Homo sapiens: one gene and its partners. The protein of the gene in region 1 purifies or fractionates together with the protein of each later gene. This does not show direct contact. Each region holds a gene or a part of one and is shown in the gene's direction. Other genes may lie near its edges.

Region 1 (7,684 bases):
GTGGGAGGTTATATTGATATTCATCAAGTGCTTATGGACAAACAAAATGTACCCAACCTGTCTACAAGCCCTGGAATGTTCTAGCATCACAGAGTGAGAGTAATTCCAGGCTCGAAGGGTATTCCTGCTGGGGCCCAAACCTTACCCCTCCCCTTCAGGGGCTCAAGAGGAGTCTACTAAGATAATTTAGAATTGGGAATGAGTGTGTTTCAAATGAATGCATGAAAAACAAATCCACAAGGTATATGGCACTGACTTGTAATAGGCCCATAGAAATATTCTGATGGAGTACAACTTCACAGGTTGCCAAATGACAGAATAAGGCAACTGTTTTTATAGTTATAATTTGCAAAAAAAATTATAGATATATATTTATATATGAATGGTGATGCAATGGTGAGAATAACTGTTCATTCTGTAACTATTCCTATCACTCTGTAGCTTTCATGCTAAGTAGATTACAAATATCATTGGATTTGCATAAGCATTAAGATAAATGAAATGTTAGGGAAAATGGAAGGAAAAAGAACACAGATATGCTCTTTTAATATCTTGGTACCGGCATTAATGTCTTCTTTAATGTGATGTAACAATACTTGGCTCCTGGGCAGTTGTTTTTTTTAGTTAATACCGTATCATCAGGAATTCAGTTTCTTCCCACCTGATTAGCAGCACGCCACCTCACTGGAATCTAGGAAGGAGCTAATGTATACTGAAACCAAATCTGATGCTTAGAAAATCCTTGAGCTATTGAAAGGCACACCTGCGTTGCTTGGTAGGTGTACTGAATCTCAAGTAAGGAATTTCTGCAAATCTCCTGTTTAGTTGGCTAAACTGGTTTTCACTCCTATTGAACAACCCCAGGGTGGGGGGGATCCTCTATTTCTCTTTAATAACCATAATAAGCCAAAGAAATAATTTTCAATGCTAATTCCAGTGACTTAGACCTCAAAAGTAGAAAGGCTCAGAATATGTTTGAGGGCATTGTATGTCTTCGGGTCAAATTTATAGATCAGTTAGTAGTTTTCATATTGGAAAAGATCTATAGCTTTTTGTAAAGACTAAACTATTGTTAACTAAGATGTTACTTTGAATAATTTAGAGGAGGCAACCTTTTTTGATGTATTCACTTTTATATTTAAATTAAGAATAGTCTCTTATGAAATTTCAGTGAACTGAATCCTAAAGAAAATAAGGAAGCATTTATCAGTCGAAAGTACTCTGTAAATCGGCTTGCAGATTAACTGCAAAGGTTATTTGGGAACTGTATAATCTTAAAGCAAAACAAGACATTTATCCATTACTTCTTTTCAAAAATCTCTATTTGGTCCATTTTTATTTTCTGGACATTCTTTTTTTAGATTATATGCTACTCCATAATATCTTTAGAATTCTCCTGACAAAACTAGCTTGAGAAGCATAAGATATAAGACATTCTAAAATAAAAATGTTTGATTCATTACATAATATTATCTAGGTATTAAAGAAAGTTAACATTTTTCATTCTTTGGTCAGGAACTCATGGCCTCCAACATACAGCTTTCCACAGTAACTATGTAGTACATCCTAGGGAAGATAAAGAAAAGAGTTTAGGGTTGTCCAACCTCATAGAAAGGAGAAAGGAAAATTAACCAAGTCCACAGGCATGACGACCCTAGTCTGTTTTAGCTGCCAAAGGAACTAATAATGCTGCCATTTAAGTTTTAATTTATGGATTGTTTGTGGTGTTTCCCATCCCTTTTAAGTTGAAATTGTGTGTTGCAATCTCTACAGTAATAGAATATTTCTTTTTTCAAAGTATTCAACAATGAGTTTAATATTCTTTCTTCCTGTGATGCATACCACCATCCGTTATGCTAAATTAACTGTTTATACACACATACACAGAGCTCAACTGGTCAGAGCTGTGGTTCTCAGCCTGAGTCCACATTAGAAGTTTTGGAAATACTGCTACCAAGGCCACCCCCAGAGATTCTGGCTTCACTGGTGTGGCGATGCGGCAGAGAGAAGAGTGTTCCAAGCAGGAATTCAGAATTTGTTTCTTCCGGATGCTATGTTGCAACGGTAATCTGGGCTTATGGATTTTTGAAGTATAATGGGTAGAGCTACATTATGTGTTAAATAAACTTTGCAGACTGGTTTAAAACACCAAACCATTCTTCAAAGTTCTTTCTTTAAAACAAACAATGTGCCTTTGGATCCAAACAGTGGACTTCATAGCAACTAGGTGATAAATTAGGAAGTGCTTGAGTCTTAAAGGTCACAGCACTACACTTGTTTTGTGGCAAAAGTAAGTCAGGGTTTTGTCTAGTAAAAACAAAGAAATAATCAATTTAGTGAGTATCTACCATAGGCGAGCCACGGTAAACAAAGGGACTATCGAACAAGGCCAGGAAATAAAGTATTAAATTTGTGTAATTTGTAATTTTAGAAAAATCAGTAAGAAATGTTATGGTTAGTGGGTTTTGTGTTTTTCAAATAGTAATTGGATCAGAAATAGGCAGATTATTCAGGAAGGAATATGGCATAGAAATAATAGTGGAAATATGCTGGAGGGCAAAAAAACAGATGATAAAACACTTTAAAAAGGCAAGCCATACAAAAGAATAGAGGATGCTTTGTAGTCATTGCTCAAAGGTGACTGATTTGCATAGCAAGGAGAATGAGAAGGAAGAGGTTAGGAAGATACTTTTTTTTTTTTTTTTTTTTTTTTTTGTATTTTTAGTAGAGACGGGATTTCACCGTGTTAGCCAGGATAGTCTCGATCTCCTGACTTCATGATCCGCCCGCCTCGGCCTCCCAAAGTGCTGGGATTACAGGTGTGAGCCACTGCGCCCAGCCAGGGAGATACTTCTTAAACTCAGTTTTTAAGTTTAGTTTACCAGTGAACCTAACATGATACATCAGGACAAGCTGGGGTTCAGAGCAGAACAGTAGGGTAACCATGTCTGCATTGTCACCCTTGTACCCATTCACGAAAGCCATGGGACCATTAAGCACAGAGAAGCCCACTACCTGCCAGCCGCTGCACGGCTGCAACAAGAGTAGGACTTACTTCGTGTTCTCAGAGCACAGATTACAACATTCGGGTAGACATTGAAGAGAGACAGATTTGGGGCTCAATAGGAAGAAAAGCTTTTTTAAAGGGCTGTCAAAACAACATGAAGAAAAACAGAATAGATACGTTGCCATGCACTGAACTGCTGGTCCTGAAGGGTGGAGCATGGGCTAAACATTATCTCTAGAAATAGACAGGAACATTGTTTTGAGTGTGGAGCGTGTCCTGCTGGTCTACAGTGATTCTTCCAATCTAAGTTTTGATGATTCTATGTCCAGCTTCCTCTCTTCTCCAGTCACCTTGTCGCCTCTAATTTCACTGGGCACCCATTTGGTTAAAAAAAAAAAGTGACAAAGGGAAATTAAGAAATTCTTCACATTGAACCAGAGTGTTTCTGCCTAAAGATAGTGACACAGAGGGTTAGCACGAGATTTATCACAGCAGACTGATTGATAGGTTTTAGACCTTTCCTTACTTTTGGCAACAAGTGAAACCTGGAAGCTCATAACAAAACTGCAAGAACCTTTAAGTGGACAAATAATAACCCGTGTCCTTGTTCTCTCATTTATGCCCAGATTTGTGGCCTCAGGAGCCAGAAGTACACCTTGATCTTTATGTTTACCTTGAGACAGCAATGAAGGGATGAAGGAATGAATGAGTTTATATTTCAATTAGGCGTGAGAGATGGAGGTGGTTTAAAAAAAAATAAAAGACAAGATAGCAGTTTTGACTGGGATAACAGCATCCTTTCATAGAATAGCCTCTAGACCTGGAAGCTGGAAGGGACCTACAGGGAAAATGTGTTGAACAAATGCCCTCTGCGTAGTGCATTAGTATGAGTACACCAGCAAGATCAAGATCGTCAGGATGCCCCATCTGCTGCTATCTTGACTTTAGGCCTGTGCCACGCACCGTTTTGCCATGACTTTCCGCATAGCACCAGGCCAAAAAGAACTGCAGAGTTTTGAGGGCAAGGCCGGTTTCCAGCCCAGAATCTGCAATGATCCCTCCTTGACAAGTCAAACAGAGTCACCCAAACAAGCGTGGCACGCAAACCTTTAGAGTTCAGCAAACCGAGGGCTGAGTTACCAAACCGTGTCCTTTCAGGGCATGCAAAAGGCTTTTCCTGCTCTGCTTCTACAAGGTAGTCAGGAAGCCAAGCTATTTGCCTTGGGTAGGGCTGGGTGGGGGTGGTGAGGTGGGGGCGCAGCAGGTTGTCCACACCCGGTTGCCAGTCTGAACCTGAGCCGCTCCAACAAGCGAGCCCTTCTCCGCGGCCCTTTGGCTCAGGGGAGCGCAGGCCGGCCTTCCTCCCGCACGCGGGCGCGGGCCAGCTGCAGATGGAGAACCCGGGGGGCGACCGCGAGCCCTCTGAGGCCCCTCAAGGGACAGGGCATGGGTGTGAGGGGTCGCGTGCGCCCCCTGGCGCCGGGTCCGCTGGGCGGGGTGGTGGGCGGGGACGGTGGGCGGAGGCGGAGGCGGGAGGCGGAGCCCCGGGGTTGGGAGTGCGGGGGTCGCGGCGCAGAGTGGGAGCCGGAGAGCGAGCGCGGCTGCAGCCGGCGGCATGGCTAGCACGGCTTCGGAGATCATCGCCTTCATGGTCTCCATCTCAGGCTGGGTACTGGTGTCCTCCACGCTGCCCACCGACTACTGGAAGGTGTCTACCATCGACGGCACGGTCATCACAACCGCCACCTATTGGGCCAACCTGTGGAAGGCGTGCGTTACCGACTCCACGGGCGTCTCCAACTGCAAGGACTTCCCCTCCATGCTGGCGCTGGACGGTCTGCATCCCCGCGGCCCCCGCCCTCAGCCCTCCTTCCTTGATGGCCAGCCCGCTAGGCGCCCTCTCGCCCCCAATACCCCCAGCGGGACCCCTAGACTGGACTCCTCTGAGGCCCGACCCGTCTCTCCCAACAGGGCCTTAGGGAGCCAGGGACGCTCCTGGTGCCCGCCCTCTCCTGATGGCTGTCTCGCGGGGCGCCTGTTCGAGCCTGGGACCCCGGGAGGGGGGACACGCAGACAGGCCCGGGTTGGTGACTCCCAGGCGTCGGGGGATGGGGAAGCTTTGCGGTCCTGAGAGTCAAGGAAGCGGCTGCCCTCCCCCACCCCCCATATCTTGGGGACCGCTGGGACCCAGAGTTCATGCTGCAGGGGCTTGTCTCCTCCACCTCCCTCCCCTACGTTCCCCGAAGGCTGGGTTCTGATAAAAATGGTGTCATTGCAAGCCAAATCCGTTTGTCCTGACCTCCCTTGAGCCATTTCGTTGGTTCTTTTAAAAGTAGGCGGGGGTGGGGGTTGAGAGGTTGGAAGCGGGAAAACATATTGCAGAATTTGTTGTTGTTATTGTTTCCCTTTAAAGAGCTTCTACAAACTTGTCTGCCTAGGCAACACTACAAACACTTCCTCCGAGTTTTAGGAAAATAATAGCCCTTGCGGTGCCGCGATGAGTCCGCAGAGGGTAGGGAATCTTGGGCCGTGAGAGCGTGGCGCCGGGAGCTGACCAGTTCTGCATCCGAGTCCCCGGTGCCTGCTGCTGTCCTGGGTTGTTCCTTTGTGGAGGTTCACCTGCGTTGCTCTGGTTAGTCAGGCCTTATGCTGGTAGCAGCTGGTGGATATTCACACAGAACTCTGGCTCTGTTGAGTTTCAAGACAACAGCCGATGTCAGCCCGGTCCCATTGATTGCTCAAGTTCTAGGCCCGTTGCTTCCAGGATTTTACAGCAAACGAATCCTGGCAGAAACTTAAGAGGAGTTATTTACATTACATATTTCTAGATTTGAGGTGTTTTTTTCTTTTATTACCGCACTTGCAGGTTTTGTTTACATAGCTGGGTAAATGAAAGAAAATAGTTGATTCCTCTAAGATGGGGTTTGCCACGAAGAGCAAACTGTTGCTCAACGTGGTATTTGATGGAACCTCCGTATAAGGAATACGCATCTAGTTTTAGAAGGGTGGCGCCCGGGTCCGTGTCCTGTTCGGTAAAATAAGCAGCCGGAACAGTGTTTATTCCCCAGCATTACCGTTGAATTTCCTGTGGTTTGTAGAGCACGCATCCAGGTAGATGAACAGGCATTCTCTTGTTCCTGTGATTTATAGTCAGCAATGTGTTACTGTCCTCTGAACACTCTTCTGTTGTAACTCTATTGTTCTCTGAGATAGTGTGCCAGATAGGTACGCTTCCTTCTGTAGGACAGTTGGGGGACAAGGGAGAGAAGGAAATGAATGCTCTATGAATATTATTAAGTGCAGAATAATAAAGTTTTCTCCTACATGTCTGCAGTGAGAGTGGAGGTGGTACCATACCTGTTTGGGGGCAGATCGGGCCGGGAGTGAAGAGGAAGTAGGAATAGTTGTCCTGGTTAGCTGGGAGGAGAACAGAGAGGAGTGACATTTTTATGCCATCCAGCTTGCAAAATGGCCTTCCTGTGTGCTCATGTGACTAAAAAATGACTTTTAAAAACATAAATGGCATGACACTACCTACTGTTGTACAACACTTTAAAATCAATGTATTTTTCCAAGTCAGTACTTAATAGAAGTGACTTGACTCTGTGTAACTGCTGCATGGTATATTCATTAGACTGCATAAAATGGCTTAGTTAACCATAGATCCATTGTGGACATTGGACCTTTTCCAGCTTTTCTTTGTTGGTGGTGCTTTACTGAAAATCTTATATTCACCTCTTTGTATGTGTGTGTATTTCTGTAGACTCCATTCCACTGAGAAATGGTATCGTAAGAGCAGTAGAATACACGTGCATTTTAATATTCAGTTCATACTGTCAAATTACTTTCCACTGACAGTGTATGAGAATACCTGCTTCTCCACATTCTCACCACTCTGTGTTAATCCAGTTTTTTTTTTTTTTTTTTTTGAGACGGAGTTTTGCTCTTGTTGCCTAGGCTGGAGTGCAGTGGCACAATCTCAGCCGACTGCAACCTCCGCCTCCCAGGTACAAGTGATTCTCCTGTCTCAGCCTCCCAAGTAGCTGGGATTACAGGCATGTGCCACCATGCCCGGCTAATTTTTTTTGCATTTAGTAGAGACAGGGTTTCACCATGTTAGGCTGATCGCGAACTCCTGAACTCAGGTCATCCACCCTCCTCGGCCTCCCAAAGTGCCGGGATTACAGGTGTGCGCCACCGCGCCCAGCCATCTTATCATTTTAGTTGGCATTTCCCTTATTGCCGTGGTCAAAATCACTGGTTATAAAAATGGTCAAAACTCACTGACCGTTTTTTTTTCTCTTTTGTGAATTGGCATCCATATCTTAGGCCCATGGTTCTGTTGTTTCTTTGTGGTTTCGATGATTTGTCAGTCCTTGATTTGTTATGTAGGTTGCAATCTCACACCATTGTTCATCTTTTAAATTTATGATGCCTTTTCTCACACAGGACTTTGAAATTTGTAATAGAATCATATTTATCAGCCTGTTTTTTTGATGACTTTCCTTCTGTGGCTTAAGATGGCATTTCTTACCGCAAAACAAACTTACTTTTCTGTATCTCTCAGAATAACATCTTGGAGGGTTAAATCATGCAACTGTGTTTTCCTGTGGAGGGGAGTTGATTCCCCCACCTGCAAGTGGAAGCTTCCAGGGTAGGGGCCCTCTGTTTGTCCTC
Region 2 (7,147 bases), on another chromosome or scaffold:
GCCACCACGCCCGGCTAATTTTTTGTATTTTTAGTAGAGACGGGGTTTCACCGTGTTAGCCAGGATGGTCTCGATCTCCTGACCTCTTGATCCGCCCGCCTCAGCCTCCCAAAGTGCTGGGATTACAGGCGTGAGCCACCGTGCCCGGCCAAGGTAAAATATTTTAAAATTAAAAAACTAGGATTGAGGGGCCGGGCGCGGTGGCTCACGCCTGTAATCCCAGCACTTTGGGAGGCCGAGGTGGGCAGATCACGAGATCAGGAGATCGAGACCATTCTGGCTAACACGGTGAAACCCTGTCTCTACTGAACAAAATACAAAAAACTGGCCAGGCGTGGTAGCGGGCGCCTGTAGTCCCAGCTACTCCGGAGGCTGAGGCAGGAGAATGGCGTGAACTCGGGAGGCGGAGCTTCCATGAGCCGAGATCGCGCCACTCCACTCCAGCCTGGGCGACAGAGCGAGACTCTTGTCTCAGAAAAAAAAAAAAAAAAAAAACTAGGATCGAGGAAAACACAGTAGAATAGGCGACAGACAATCAATATTAGAGGAGAGGAAACCCAGCTCTCATGGGTAGGACCCTTCCCAAGCATCCTCCCCTGAAGTTGCTGAAGAATCAGGCTAACCAGCGGCGGGCAAGCGCATATGATTGGATTTCAGTGGGATCAGGGTGAGGCACCTTCCTTCTTGAGGGTCATTGGACTCAGCTTCTGTCCTGCAGTTCTGGTGATGTTTGTGGCTGGCTGGTCTCCTTGAGCAACGAATACAATTTCCCATGAATGTCTGCTGCATTTCCCATTGCCCTCTGTCATCGTGGCGCTTGCTTCACCATGAGACCAGGACACCCTTCATCTAACTGCCTCATTGGGCATAAACAGAGGGAAATGTGTTGCTGGAGGGAGAGAGTGGCATGCAGCATCCAATTTCTCCCGTCAGCTGATTAAGATTTGTTGTGCCTGAACACGGTCAAATGAGATTAGAAAGAAAATGCAATGTGTCTGGTGTGTGTTTCACATAACTGTATCATTTGTGTAAACAGGATGAATGAAGGGGAATTTTTAAGGCAAATATTGAATGTCATTCTCAAGAATCAAGGACAAGACACCAGGGCTTATGTTCTGCCTGGAGAGAAAAAAAATGTATATATTGGGGGCATTTTGAACCCTGTTGATTCAATAATGCTCTGCTTCTTTCATGCTGGTACAGTTAAAATGTGATAGTTATATGTCTGATTTTCAGAGACACTGAGCACAAAATAAGTAAAACCACAGAACCACCACATTCTACCTTTGTTGCCCTTCTAAAGCTCTTAGGAGAGGTGTAGAGCCACTTTCTGTAATAGCAGCTGCCTAAGTGCTCTGCATTGAGTCCATCTGTTAGGATGCGAAAGGAAAAATCTCACCTCTGGCAAGAGCCACAACATTTTAGATGTGGATGACTCCGGGGCAAGCCCACGTCTCTGTGGATAAACCTACTAGAATTTTTTTTGGTCCTCCAAACCTGTAATTTTCTTCCTTTCTCCAGGGACCCCTCTGCAGTACTAGCAGCCTCTCCTACAAGGTTTTATCAGGGCAGAAATGGCTTTTAAAGTGGTGTAAGAGCTTTGGAGGAAGACATGATTTCTGTTACATGTTCTGCATACGATCTAGCATATTGTGGATGCTTAATAAGCAGCTTCGACGGCTATTATTTCCACTGACTATTTCCAGGCACAGAGCTGGAGGGCTATTCTGAGACCAGACTTTTCGACTAGGTCATTGCAAAGTCCCTTCCTACTCTAAATAACAGTGGGGCTGAAAAGCATTCACATGATCATGTCTCCAGACTGGGAAAAATCTCAATATATGTTATTTAAAAGGTAAATCTAGATAGTAACAGAAGTTCAAATAAATGTAGAAATTGAAGGATATTATAATGAAATTTTAAAAAATTTCCACATTGGCGGGAATTATATTACAGTAAATACCTTAACTGAGGATTATTTCCCAGTATTTGGACAGTAATATTGCCAAACACCCAATATGCAGTAGATAAATTAGCATATGTCAGTAGCTAGGGATTATATTTGCCTAAAAGCTGTGTGTGTATGTGTGTGTGAGTGTGTGTGTTTAAACAGGGTTTCACAACTGGACATAATGGAGAAATAAAATAAAATAATGACTTGCATTTGCATTCCCTGCGTTCAAGGTGCTCGAACACACTTGGACACATTTGATTGTCATGATAATCCTGTGAGTTTGCAGGGAAGATATGAGTAGGAAAGTCTCATTAATTTCCACTAGGAGGGGGGGAATCTGGAGCCCTTGGGCTGAATTGCCCAACAATGGCCAACCACACAGTGCAGGCAGGTTAACACGGGGTTAACCTAAAGCAGGGAGACCTGGTTTTAGTCACAATGAGGACTTTAACTAAGGGTACCACCTGAGTGAGTCTCTGAGTCTGCATCTCTGTCCTTAGGATTTTTAGGGTATTTTCTAACTTTCAAGTCTATCATTTCACGTAGTTAAAAAGGGTTAACATGCATACTACATCTAGCATAATGATTCTTTAATACTTGGAAAACCATTGTCCAAAATATTTTCTTTAAGGATTCAGAAGGCCCTTTGGAAACTTGCAGATACTCAGGAAGATTATTATGTTTTAAAGCAAATTATCAGTATCCTTTGCAGGTGTAGAAGTGGTAGTTCATGAGGGTTCCAATTAATAGGGTCTCAAGAAATCAACATTTTCTGTATATTCAAGTCCCTTTTGGGAGCTGCTGCTTATCCGTGATTGGAGTTCTGTGATGATTGAGCCTCTAGCTCTTTAGTACAGGACACGAGCTCCTTCTCCAAGGCTCATCCCTTCAGAAGGCACATGGATGGCTTCCCCACACCCCCATGCTCTGTGGGGAGTGTGGGGAACAAACTGCAACTCCATCCTCTCTACACCTAAGCAACTACCCAGAGGAGGTAGAGACTGGAGAGCATATTTCTAGTTCTGACAGGTCGATCTGTACCTCTCTACCTGAATCATCAGGTGAGCAGGCTTGTGTACATACATGGGAGTGCATGCGTGCACACACACACACACACACACTCATGCCTTCTGGGCTCAAACGCCTGCATAAGCAGGAGCGACTCTTCAATTATTGGAAACTATTAATCATGTTTTCATTTGGTTTCTTCAAAGACAGCTCTTGATCCATATCCTTTCAGTCCACCTTATTCCCCACCTTCTAGCCAAAGAGTTATTTGTCCAGACAGCTCCCTCCCTTCCTTACCCTGTCCTGGCCAGAAGTCTAAAGAGGATGTCCATGGCCCATTGAAGAATTTCCCACCCCTGAAGTTGAGCTCACCTGAGGATTCACCTCATCCAACGGGGACAGGCTTGAACAGTGGAGAGGGAGGACAGAGCTGCCACCTCTGCAGCCCCTCGCCAGTCCCAACCTGGATGGCTTTTGCCTCGATTGACTTCGTAAAATGCCATTTGTAGGGCTTGGCTCTGGGGATGGCACAGACAGACACACACACGCACACATACACGTTGCCACACACAGACACCTACACCCCATGCAGGGATGCCAGATGACAGAACAGAAAAGGCCTCCCTTTCATCCAGCAGCCTTCTGACTCCAGAGGAGAGTCTCCGAGCCACGACCTGCTGTTTCCCTGGCAACTCAGGCCTCAAAATAAACAGGATTCTGCTCAGACGGGCCAGAAGTCCATTCGGCTCACACATTTGCCCCAAGACAAACCACGTTAAAATAACACCCAGGGTAGCTGCTGCCACCGTCTTCTGTCTCTACCTCCCTCCTGGCTGGCCAATGGCTCTGTGTTCCTGGGCCTGCTGCTGGCTGTCCAGAGTAGGGGTTGCTTAGAGCTGTGTGCATCCCTGCGGGTGGTGTGGGAGTGGGCGGTTGTCTAAAGGCAGGTCCCCTCTACTGATAAACAAGGACCGGAGATAGACCTAGAGGCTGACATTCTTGGCTCCCCCAGCCTACACCCCCCCCACCTCGATTTCCCACAGAGCCCTAGGGACGGGTAGCCAGCTCTGTGGCATGGTATCTGGAGGCAGGCCAGCAACCTGATGTGCATGCCACGGCCCGTCCCTCTCCCCACTCAGAGCTGCAGTAGCCTGGAGGTTCAGAGAGCCGGGCTACTCTGAGAAGAAGACACCAAGTGGATTCTGCTTCCCCTGGGACAGCACTGAGCGAGTGTGGAGAGAGGTACAGCCCTCGGCCTACAAGCTCTTTAGGTAAGAATCAGGGCATCTGATCTGGGAAACAGAGCAGGTTATAGCTGAGGTTGTGTGTGTGTGTGTGTGTGTGTGTGTGTGTTTTGTGTGTGTGTCCAAGTGCAAATGTAATGCTACTTGGAGAAGAAAGAAAATGTTTCAAGCAGATAGCACTGGAACCAGGACTCCTGCAAGTGAATCTCAAGAAGCTCACCTTTGGCTGGGTTTAAACCATGGTGCAGACTGCTCTGGGGGAAGGGCATGCTGATGTCACAGACATGTAAAAATAGTACTTCTAGTTTAGAGACTGCAAAAATATGAATGCACCATGCCGCCACATTATCTCCATTCCTCCAGTGCCCGCCTGACACTGGCCCTGAATCAGGGCTGGAGGGGGCAGGCATTTCTCATTTACTAAAGTGCTGGATGCAGCCCTTGAGGTTCGGCAGAAGCAGAAAGCTGCGGTGAGTCTGGCTGTGGTGAGTGTGGCTAGCATTATCGTGCTGTGTCACACTAGCTCTCTCTTGGGAAGCCTGGATATTCAGCTGCCTTGGAAAAGCTGTCCACATGGTGGGCAGCTTAGATTTTATTAACCTTTTGATATAGAAGTCAGGCTGAAGTTTAGGATTATCTGGGTGTGTCAGCTCAGGGTTTTGGTAGGGTGGTATTCCCATGGCCCCATGGTCACTCGGATTACTTCTTTCCTTCCTTTCTGATCTTGGAATATCACATCCTCGTTTCAGTACCCCTCCGATGGGCACTAGGAAAGAAGGAGTCAGAATGGACAGAGTCTCTGGCACATACACTATCCACACCCACATCACAATTACATGCCAAAGGTATGCAAGGCTGCTGCAGAGGAGCACTTCAGAAATGCAGCCCTCCAGATACTGAGATGGAAATTTCAGGCATTTAATCAAGTACGCACTTTTCAGAGACCCAAGGGAGGCCCAAGGGCTCACTCTGCCTCAGCAGAATTCAAACACTCCATTATTCTCTAGCTATGTTACATCCACCCACCACCCCACCACCCCCGCTTGCCTCCCTCCTTTCTGCACTGGTGACTGGCACTTTTCCTTTCATTCTCTACAGGGATGCGATTGTTTACGAGTTAGCTCCCCGACCCAGTGGGAGGACTTGAGCATCCCGGCTGAGGGCGAGCCAGGCTGCCCCTCCACCAGCTCTGTGTAACAGTGAGCCAGCAGCAGTGGCATCAGGGCTGAAAGGAGTGGGCCTCGCTTTGGGAAGTGATGTCTAGTGAAGGGTGGCCAGCAGTTTACTGGAGCTGTTTGTCAGTGTGGATGACTGAGGATTTTGGTGGAGACTCTGATTCACAGTCGCAAATTCCCTTTTCCTTTGTTTTCTTTGTGTTGGTCTTTGAGGGCTTCCGAGGAAAGTCCCCTCTTGAGATGTTGATCTGAAGGCAAGATCAACAATTTGCTGTTGGCAGAGGGACTCAGAGAGACTTTCTTCTGTTGCCCCTGCCTTTGTTAGTGTGAATAAATGGGTTTGCAAATGAAGTATGTAATCCAAAGCAAACTTAGTATGCAAAACTTTAAGAGAAAACACAATGAGTTTCTTTTAAATTCTCTCTCAAATCTGCTGTTTACATATGACTTGACTAGTTCTGCAAAGGATCAAGGAAGCCATATCTGGTTAAGTGGTTTGACTTTACAGGTGAGTAGCACCAGCCATGATGATAACATTCAGTGGAGATGGTGGGCGGACATCCATATGCCGTATCTACATTGAAGGGACATCTCATCTTGGGACAGTGCAGCCACTCACTTAGGTGACATGCATTCTGTGAACTACACATAAACTATTAGGATCTTGGGACTGCTGTTACAGGAAAGAGATCCAGACCCCAAGAGAGGGTTCTTGGATCTCAAGCAAGAAAGAAGTCAGGGCGAGTCCGCAGTGCAAAGCAAAAGCACTTTCTTTTTATTAAGAAAGTAAAGTGGTGAAAGCACAGCTGCTCCACTGACAGAGTAGGGTGTTCCCAAAAGTAAGAGGAGGAACACATCCATCCTAGGTACCATGCTCGTATATATAGGATTTTAAAAAGATCATGGGGAGATGTGCTCTGCTACAAGGGTTTGTGATAAAGGATAAAGGATTAATTTTCTTTTCCTTTTTTTTTTTTTTTTTTTTTTGAGACAGAGTTTCACTCTTGTTGCTCAGGCTGGAATGCAATGGCACAATCTCGGCTCACTGCAACCTCCGCCTCCCGGGTTCAAGCAATTCTCCTGCCTCAGCCTCCCAAGTAGCTGGGATTACAGGTGTGCGGCACCATGCCCGGCTAATTTTGTATTTTTATTAGAGACGGGGTTTCTCCATGTTGCTAAGGCTGGTCTCTAACTCCCAATGTCAGGTGATCCAACCGGCCTCCCAAAGTGCTAGGATTACAGGTGTGAGCCACTGCACCTGGCCTAATTTTCTTAATTACTATATTTTGCAAGAATCCATATTATCTTTAAAGCAAAATTAGGAATGCATTTGTTCTCAAAATATCGGGCTACCTGGAGACTCCCAAGTCTGAGTCTGTGTAGTAAACATTATCAATCTATTCCCTTAACCATAAATATCTGGAGTCTAGGAATGCCTAATTTTCTGGGAATGCAGCCCAGCAGGTCCCAGCCTCATTTTCCCAGCCCTCACTCAAGATGGAGTTGCTCTGGTTCGAACGCCTCTGACACTGTCAGCCTGTATGCTAGCTCCCAGGGGTTAGGTATTGTGCAGAGTGGACACACCCATTTCCACCTCATTAAATAAGCAGTGCATGGCTAATGCAGTATCCCTTGATTTAGGTTGCTGGAAAAATAATCTGAAGTTGTTTGTGCCACAGGCATACCATGCTTTAGGTAAATCTAACATCTATACATGTGGGTGAGAGTACTTTTTCTGAAGAAAGGGTTCACTAATCAACAAATGT
Region 3 (7,108 bases), on another chromosome or scaffold:
GAATGGTCCGGTAGGCAGAGGTTGCAGTGAGCTCAGATGGCGCCACTGCACTCCAGCCTGGGTGACAGAGCGAGACTCTGTCTCAAAAAAAAAAAAGAAAATTTGGAGAAAAGAGAACACTACAAAGAAAGGTAAATCCTGTCTCTGTTTCTGAAACAAAGTAAAATGACTGTTACCATGGTGTCTCCTTTCCAGGTTTTTTTCTAAGTATTTTTATTTAGTTTATAATAGTAAAAATTTTTTTATTTTAAAGGGATGTCAGTTTGATATTTGGTCTGTTAATTAGAACAAAACTCTGATTAACTACAGCTGAACTAATGAGACCCAAATACCTGCAGTATTTGGAGAAAGACACAGATACCTTCAACTAAGCAAGGATTCCTTTTTTGTTTTTTGAGACAGAGTCTCACTCTGTCGCCCAGGCTGGAGTGCAGTGGTGCCATCTCAGCTCAGCACAACCTCTGCCTCCTGGGTTCAAGTGATTCTAATGCCTCAGCCTCCTGAGTAGCTGGGATTACAGGTGTGTGCTACCACACCTGGCTGATTTTTGTATTTTTAGTAGAAATGGGGTTTCACCATGTTGACCAGGCTGGTCTCGAACTCTCAACCTCAGGTGATCTGCCCGCCTTAGCCCCCCAAAGTGCTAGAATTCCAGGTGCACAAGGATTCTTTTAATTTAAAAAAACCTGTCAGTGTTTGCGCTGGGATCAGTATTCCTTTATACCTGGTTCCTAAGTATTTATGTTACCAGTGCTTTCAGAGAAATGTCCCTCAGAAATGTTGGGCAGAGATAGCAGTGTCCTTTTAATGCAGCAGGTACTTTGATTTGATTGTGTTCTTCCTCACAAAGGCAGAGAAGTGGATGAATGTTTTTTTTTAAAAAAAGATATTTGGGCCGGGCCTGGTGGCTCATTCCTGTAATCCCAGCACTTAGGGAGGCCAAGGTGGGTGAATCACGAGGTCAGGAGTTTGAGACCAGTCTGTCCAAGGGAGTTTGAGACCAGTCTGGCCAACATGGTGAAACTCCATCTCTACTGAAAATACAAAAATTAGCCAGGCACGGTGGCACACACCTGTAGTCCCAGCTACTCGGGAGGTTGAGGCAGGAGAATTGCTTGAACCTGGGAGGCGGAGGTTGCAGTGAGCTGAGATCATGCCATTGCACTCCAGCCTGGGTGACAGAGCGAGACTCTGTCTCAAAAAAAAGAAAAAAAAGATTTTCAGCAGTAAGAGCCACCTTGGAAAGTTTCTGTGCTATTTACTTTCTCTAGCAACTCCCACTTCTAAGGTAGAATTTTAGATCCACTTACAGCTCTGTATCAGGATCCTCTGAAACATCTACCCCAAAGCTAGCCTAACCATTGAAACTCTTTGGACTTACACTGTAGAATCTTTGAGACATGTGAAAAAACTTTTCTAGAACCAAATGTGATTGGTCTAATATTTTAAAATTCTTTTTAGGCAAAGGGGCTGATTTGAGTAAGCCTCCATGTCGAAAAGCAAAGGAAATCCGGAAAGAAAGGAAAAGGTTAAAACTAATGCAGCAGAACCCAGCTGGAGAACTTGAGGGTTTCCAGGCTCAAGGTCACCCACCATCTTTGTTTCCACCAAAGGCTAAATCCAACCAGCCAAAATCACTCGAAGATTTAATTTTTGAGTCTTTACCAGAGAATGCATCACACAAGTTAGAGGTACTTTGGAGGACTTTTGTTGTTTGTTTTATTATGATTTTTTTTTGTTTGGGCATATCGTTTATTTTTATTTGAAGTTCTAATTAGTTGATGTTTGCTAGTTAAATAATGAGAATTTAAAAGAAATTAAAGAGAACTGGGAAGAAGTAACATTTGTATTTACTAAGTTAACTGCTGTTTGAGGGAAACTCCTTTTTTTTTAAAAGACTTTTTGAGAATACATAGTTGGCCACCAAACTTGTGAAAACAGTGTCAATTTTAGCATGCTACCTTGATTGAAATTTAATAGTTAAAATGAAAGAAATACTCTTTAAAATTGTGTTTTTAGCAGTTTTGGTTTAGATAGTGAAAGACAATAGATTACACAAGGCAAATCACTATTTCATCCATTATAATATTCTGATCTTGGTAAAGACAGCAAATGGTGTCATATACATAAGCCAGCAGTTAGGAATTATCTAAATAGGGCTAAATTGTACTGCTGAAATCCTCTCTCATTAGTGCCAAAACCACTTTGGGCATAATATGAATACTTTTAGAGCCAAATTCCTCCATTTTTCCAAATTTATTTTCGTTTCTAGATCAGATCAAGATTTCTCAGTATTAGTTTCTCATATATAAAATTCAAAAACAAGGGCTGGATGTGGTGGCTCACACCTGTAATCCTAGCACTTTGGTAGGCCGAGGCAGGTGGATCTCTTGAGGTCTGGTGTTTGAGATCAGCTTGGCCAACACAGTGAAACCCCGTCTCTACTAAAATATAAAAATTGGCCAGGCGTGGTGGCGTGCACCTGTAATCCCAACTCCTAGAGAGGCTGAGACACCAGAATTGCTTGAACCCAGGAGGTGGAGGTTGTAGCGAGCTGAGATCACACCACTGCACTCCAGCCTGCGTGACAGAGCAAAAGACTGTCTCAAAAAAATTCAAAAACATTAGCCATAATGATTTTTATCTTATTCTCATATGTGATTAGTAACTGGTCAGCCTTTGAATTTTGTAGCTTACTATCATCTAAAAATATCACTTATCACTGAAGTCCTGATAATAAAAATTAACTTTCATGCATTCTAAGCCTTAATTCAGTATATGTATTATCAGACGTAGAATTTAGCTTTTTTTTTTGAGACGGAGTTTCACTCTTGTTGCCTAGGCTGGAGTGCAATGGCGCGATCTCGGCTCACTGCAACCTCTGCCTCCTGGGTTCAAGCGATTCTCCTGTCTCAGCCTTCTGAGTAGCTGGGATTACAAGTGCCCACCACTACGCCCGGCTAATTTCTGATATTTTTAATAGAGACAGGGTTTCACCATGTCAGCCAGGCTGGTCACGAACTCCTGACCTCAGGTGATCACCCGCCTCGGCCTCCCAAAGTGCTGGGATTAGAGGTGTGAGCTACCTTGCCTGGCCAGATTTTAGCTTTTATAACTCCTTGGCTACTCTGATTTGGATACAGATTTTTTTGTCCTTCCAAAATTGTAAACAGAGTTGAATACACTACTTAAAATATTTTACAAGGTGTCTTTTATCTTTGATCATAAATAGTAATGTATTCAGGAGGCCAAGCACGCTTAACATAACAGTTCTCCAGTGGTTACTTGTACTTTTTGAATGTAATGATACTCAGGATGTATAGAGATCTTTTACCACTGGGTGTCGCTCTTTCTTCATAGAATTACGTCTCACGGCACACATGTCCAGTTTCCAGCTGTTTTCATTGCATTGCATTTGACTGTTTTACTGTTCTGTTTTGCTAATACATTTTAAGTGGCTAGTAAATAATGTTAAAGTAAATGTTAGCCATTACTGCGTGCAATTACTGTTTTAAACTTATCCTTATTTTACAAGGTTACTTGACCAAGATGGTGACATTGTAAGATTTGAACAAAGGAAATGTGACTTCAGAGTCATGGTTGTTAACTATGCTATGAAGTAGGAAAACTTTATGAGGTCTTTTTAACTCAAACAGTCAAGTTTTAAGTTGAGGGTTAGCAATGATGAATGAGTGGCCAAAAAATGTATTCATATTTTTAGTCTTTCTTAGAATTACTGGTAGTTGTGCACAACTAGAGGGTATTTATTTGTGTGTGTATGTGTCGTGTGTGTACGAGTGCTGGAAATACTCTGCCAGTTTACAGTAGAGGCAGGCTTACATAATTCAGTCATGAAAGCTGAGGCTTATAGTTTAGAGGGGATCGTCCTCTTCTTAATGAGTCTGTAAGTTACAAAAATAACTTTTTTCTTTATTTACTAACTGGTTGGTTTTTAATATTAAAATATTTAGGTGCTTTAATAATTGTTGAAACTTGGTTTCTTGGATGGGAGTTACTCTTAATGCATATTCCACAGAATGAATAAATGAATGAATTAGTAAACTTGTTTTTTTAACTGCTTCTGAAGGTGAGGGTGGTGAGATCATCTCCACCAAGTTCGCAGTTCAAAGCCACACTTCTGGAGTCTTACCAGGTCTATAAACGTTACCAGATGGTTATTCACAAGAACCCACCTGATACGCCAACCGAAAGCCAGGTCAGCAGGCCAAGTGTAATTTTCCTGTGCAAACAGAGCTTTCCCTTCCACTTAATATCATTTAATGAAATCTTGGTTTATTTGTGCTACATTTTATTTGTGTTCAATTTGCAGCATATCTGCAAAGACCTAAGACTGAATTAATGGACATTCTGAAAGTGCAAATTTTACCTAGTGCCATGTTAAGTACCAGCCATGTATAATTTCAGAGTCAAAGTAACATGTAAAATTATTTAAAGTCACTATTTTAGATGCATTTATCTAAAAGATAGTAATAGAGCTCTAAATTAAAATACCTGTGAGGAAAACTCAGGAAACTATATTTTTATGGTAGATACGTACTTTGCCTAACATGATTTTAATGCTTTATCTGTATTTGAAAGATGTATGTAGGAATAATTGATCCCAGTTAAATTATTCTTTATTAATGTGCTACCCTTGCACAATTGAGTGGGACTAAAAAAGGAAGATAGTAGAACATTTTAATAGAAGAACTCATATGCTAATAATTTTGTAAGTTAAATGACCCAAGAAAAATCTGTAAAGGAAAAAAGCTTAAAACACTTAGTATAAGTAGAGGTGGCAAAAGTAGCGATCATCACCATGATTAACAACAATATTGACTCTAGTTTATGCAGAAAACTACAATTAGTGGAGAGAGAGAAAAAAAAAAGAACAAATTGTTGGCTCTTATGAGGTTGAGATTTTCATAAGTTTTAGTACAGTTAGCACTTCGGTCTCTGCACCCGTCTGCCTCGTCTAAGGTTTCTTTTCATGACAAATTCGAGTTCGAGCTTTGGCGTGGATTTGTGGAGATCTTACTGTAGCCTCACCTTCAGAAGCATATCATCAGAGATGTTTCAATAGCATTTGCTTGTATTTTCCTTGCTCTGAAGGTGAGGTTAGTACCTGTCTCCTTTGAGGACCCAGAGTTCAAGTCGTCTTTCAGCCAGTCCTTTTCTTTGTATGTCAAGTATCAAGTGGCCATACACCAGGATCCACCCGATGAATGTGGGAAGACTGAGGTATTGTTAACTGTTGTTTTCTGTGTTGATAAGGTTGTCTGGGAAGAAGTATAATATATACCATTTTCTTGTCAGGTGGAGCTGATGACCCTTTCAGTGTGTATTACTGAACTTCTGTGAACACTCACATGACTCATACATGTGAGCATTTTAAATCCTTAGAAAAAAGGATTGCAAATTCAGGATGCGTTCTTAGTGTTTTCTCTAGGAACCTGAAAGTAGTGGTTTATAAGGTCAGTCATCCACTCTAGGTCAACAGTCATTTACTGAGTGCCCATCGTGTGCCAGACTGTGCACCACAGAACAAAAGGAGTCTCTGTCTTCAAGAAATTGATAATCAAATGGGAAAGACAGACCAATAAGCAAAAATACCTTAACAACAAGTGAATTAGAAAGAAATACCTACACCTAACCTACCGAACATCATAGCTTAGCCTCGCCTGCTTTACACATTCTCAGAACACTTATAATCTGCAGTTAAGCAGAATCATCTAACACAAAGCCTATTTTATAATAAAATGTTGAATATCTCATGTAATTTATTGAATACTGTACTGAAAGTGAAAAACGGAATCGTTTTCCATCATTGTAAAGTTGAAAAAGCATAAGTCCAACCATTATAAGTTGGGGACCTTCTGTTAGATATAATATGGTTTAACGGGCGTTTATTGAGGGTCTGTCTTTGTCAGTCTTGGGATATTGAAATGAATGAGATGGCATCGTTGTCACAGTAGAACCATGGTATGTTGGAAGAAAGAGGCCAACAGATGCAGAAGAATTAGAGTTTTGATTTTTTGACTGCTTTTGTTTTTTTAATGACACGATGTGTAAGCTAAAAAGAGAGGGTTAATACAACAGGAGTTAATGCTGCATGTTCCCTGAGAAAGGGCTCACTTCCCAGATCCCCCAGAGTCTTCTGGTTAAAGTGTCATTTGCAGACCTGCAGCATCAGCAGTACCTGGAACACAGACTCTCAGTCCTATTCATTCAACATCTACTTTTTTTTTTTTTTTTTTGAGACGGAGTCTTGCTCTGTTGCCAGGCTGGAGTGCAGTGGCGCAATCTCTGCTCACTGCAACCTCCACCTCCCGGGTTCAAGCGATTCTCCTGCCTCAGCCTCCTGAGTAGCTGGGACTACAGGCGCGTGCCACCACAGCCGTCTAATTTTTATATTTTTAGTAGAGATAGGGTTTCACCATGTTGGCTAGGTTGGTCTTGATCTCTTGATCTTGTGGTCTTCCTCCTTGGCCTCCCAGAGTGCTGGGATTACAGGCATGAGCCACCGGGTCCGGCCAGAATCTACATCTTAAACTGGGTTTCCAAAGGATTCAGATGCACATTTCAGTTTTGAGAGGCTATGTCCTAGGTTCCCTGTTGATCCATGCCACTGTGGGTGATAGCATTTGCAGATAGTAAGGATTCTGCTAGGCCTAGGAAGCTTCCTTTGATATTCTCAGGGGGTCTTTTTGCTTTCTGAACTTTCCTCCTTCCTAGTGCTCTGGAGATGATGCCTTTCTACCTCCCTGCTTAGCAGGTAGGAATAGTTGGACAAAATGTTTCTGTGGCCCGGTGTATTTATTCAAGACTTCCCCAGGAGCTTCTCCTAGTAGGCTTCAGGCCTCTGGGAAGTCCCTTTATGCAGACTTAGAGCAGCACTAAAGGCATTCATAGTCTGAATTGGGGTGGTAGACAGGTATGCAATTCCAGTGCCTTTAGAATTAGCCATTGGATTAGTAGGGACAGCCAGCTTAGTGTGAAACTGGAGGTTAGAGAGGTTTTTCTGAGGGAAGTGACATTTGAGCCAAGTCTGGAAAGATGAGTAGGTGTTTGCCAGGACAAAAAGGGAGAAAGGTGTTCTGGGCAGCAG

The links.
Region 2: the proteins of CLDN10 (region 1) and FGF1 purify together in Homo sapiens (affinity purification with mass spectrometry; 3 studies listed by BioGRID and IntAct, with this or other methods). This does not show direct contact.
Region 3: the proteins of CLDN10 (region 1) and ATE1 purify together in Homo sapiens (affinity purification with mass spectrometry; 3 studies listed by BioGRID and IntAct, with this or other methods). This does not show direct contact.

The regions. Positions count from the first base shown.
Region 1 is NC_000013.11:95,548,132-95,555,815, forward strand, and holds the start of CLDN10 (claudin-10), read left to right. Parts: upstream 1-4,588; 5' UTR 4,589-4,622; coding exon 4,623-4,842; exon of another isoform or gene 4,843-7,684. UniProt on the Homo sapiens protein: Forms paracellular channels: polymerizes in tight junction strands with cation- and anion-selective channels through the strands, conveying epithelial permeability in a process known as paracellular tight junction permeability.
Region 2 is NC_000005.10:142,683,043-142,690,189, reverse strand, and holds the start of FGF1 (fibroblast growth factor 1 isoform 1 precursor), read left to right. Parts: upstream 1-4,099; 5' UTR 4,100-4,233; intron 4,234-4,486; exon of another isoform or gene 4,487-4,691; intron 4,692-6,375; exon of another isoform or gene 6,376-6,494; intron 6,495-7,147. UniProt on the Homo sapiens protein: Plays an important role in the regulation of cell survival, cell division, angiogenesis, cell differentiation and cell migration. Functions as a potent mitogen in vitro. Acts as a ligand for FGFR1 and integrins.
Region 3 is NC_000010.11:121,896,974-121,904,081, reverse strand, and holds part of ATE1 (arginyl-tRNA--protein transferase 1), read left to right. Parts: intron 1-1,461; coding exon 1,462-1,691; intron 1,692-4,087; coding exon 4,088-4,216; intron 4,217-5,112; coding exon of another isoform or gene 5,113-5,241; intron 5,242-7,108. UniProt on the Homo sapiens protein: Involved in the post-translational conjugation of arginine to the N-terminal aspartate or glutamate of a protein. This arginylation is required for degradation of the protein via the ubiquitin pathway. Does not arginylate cysteine residues.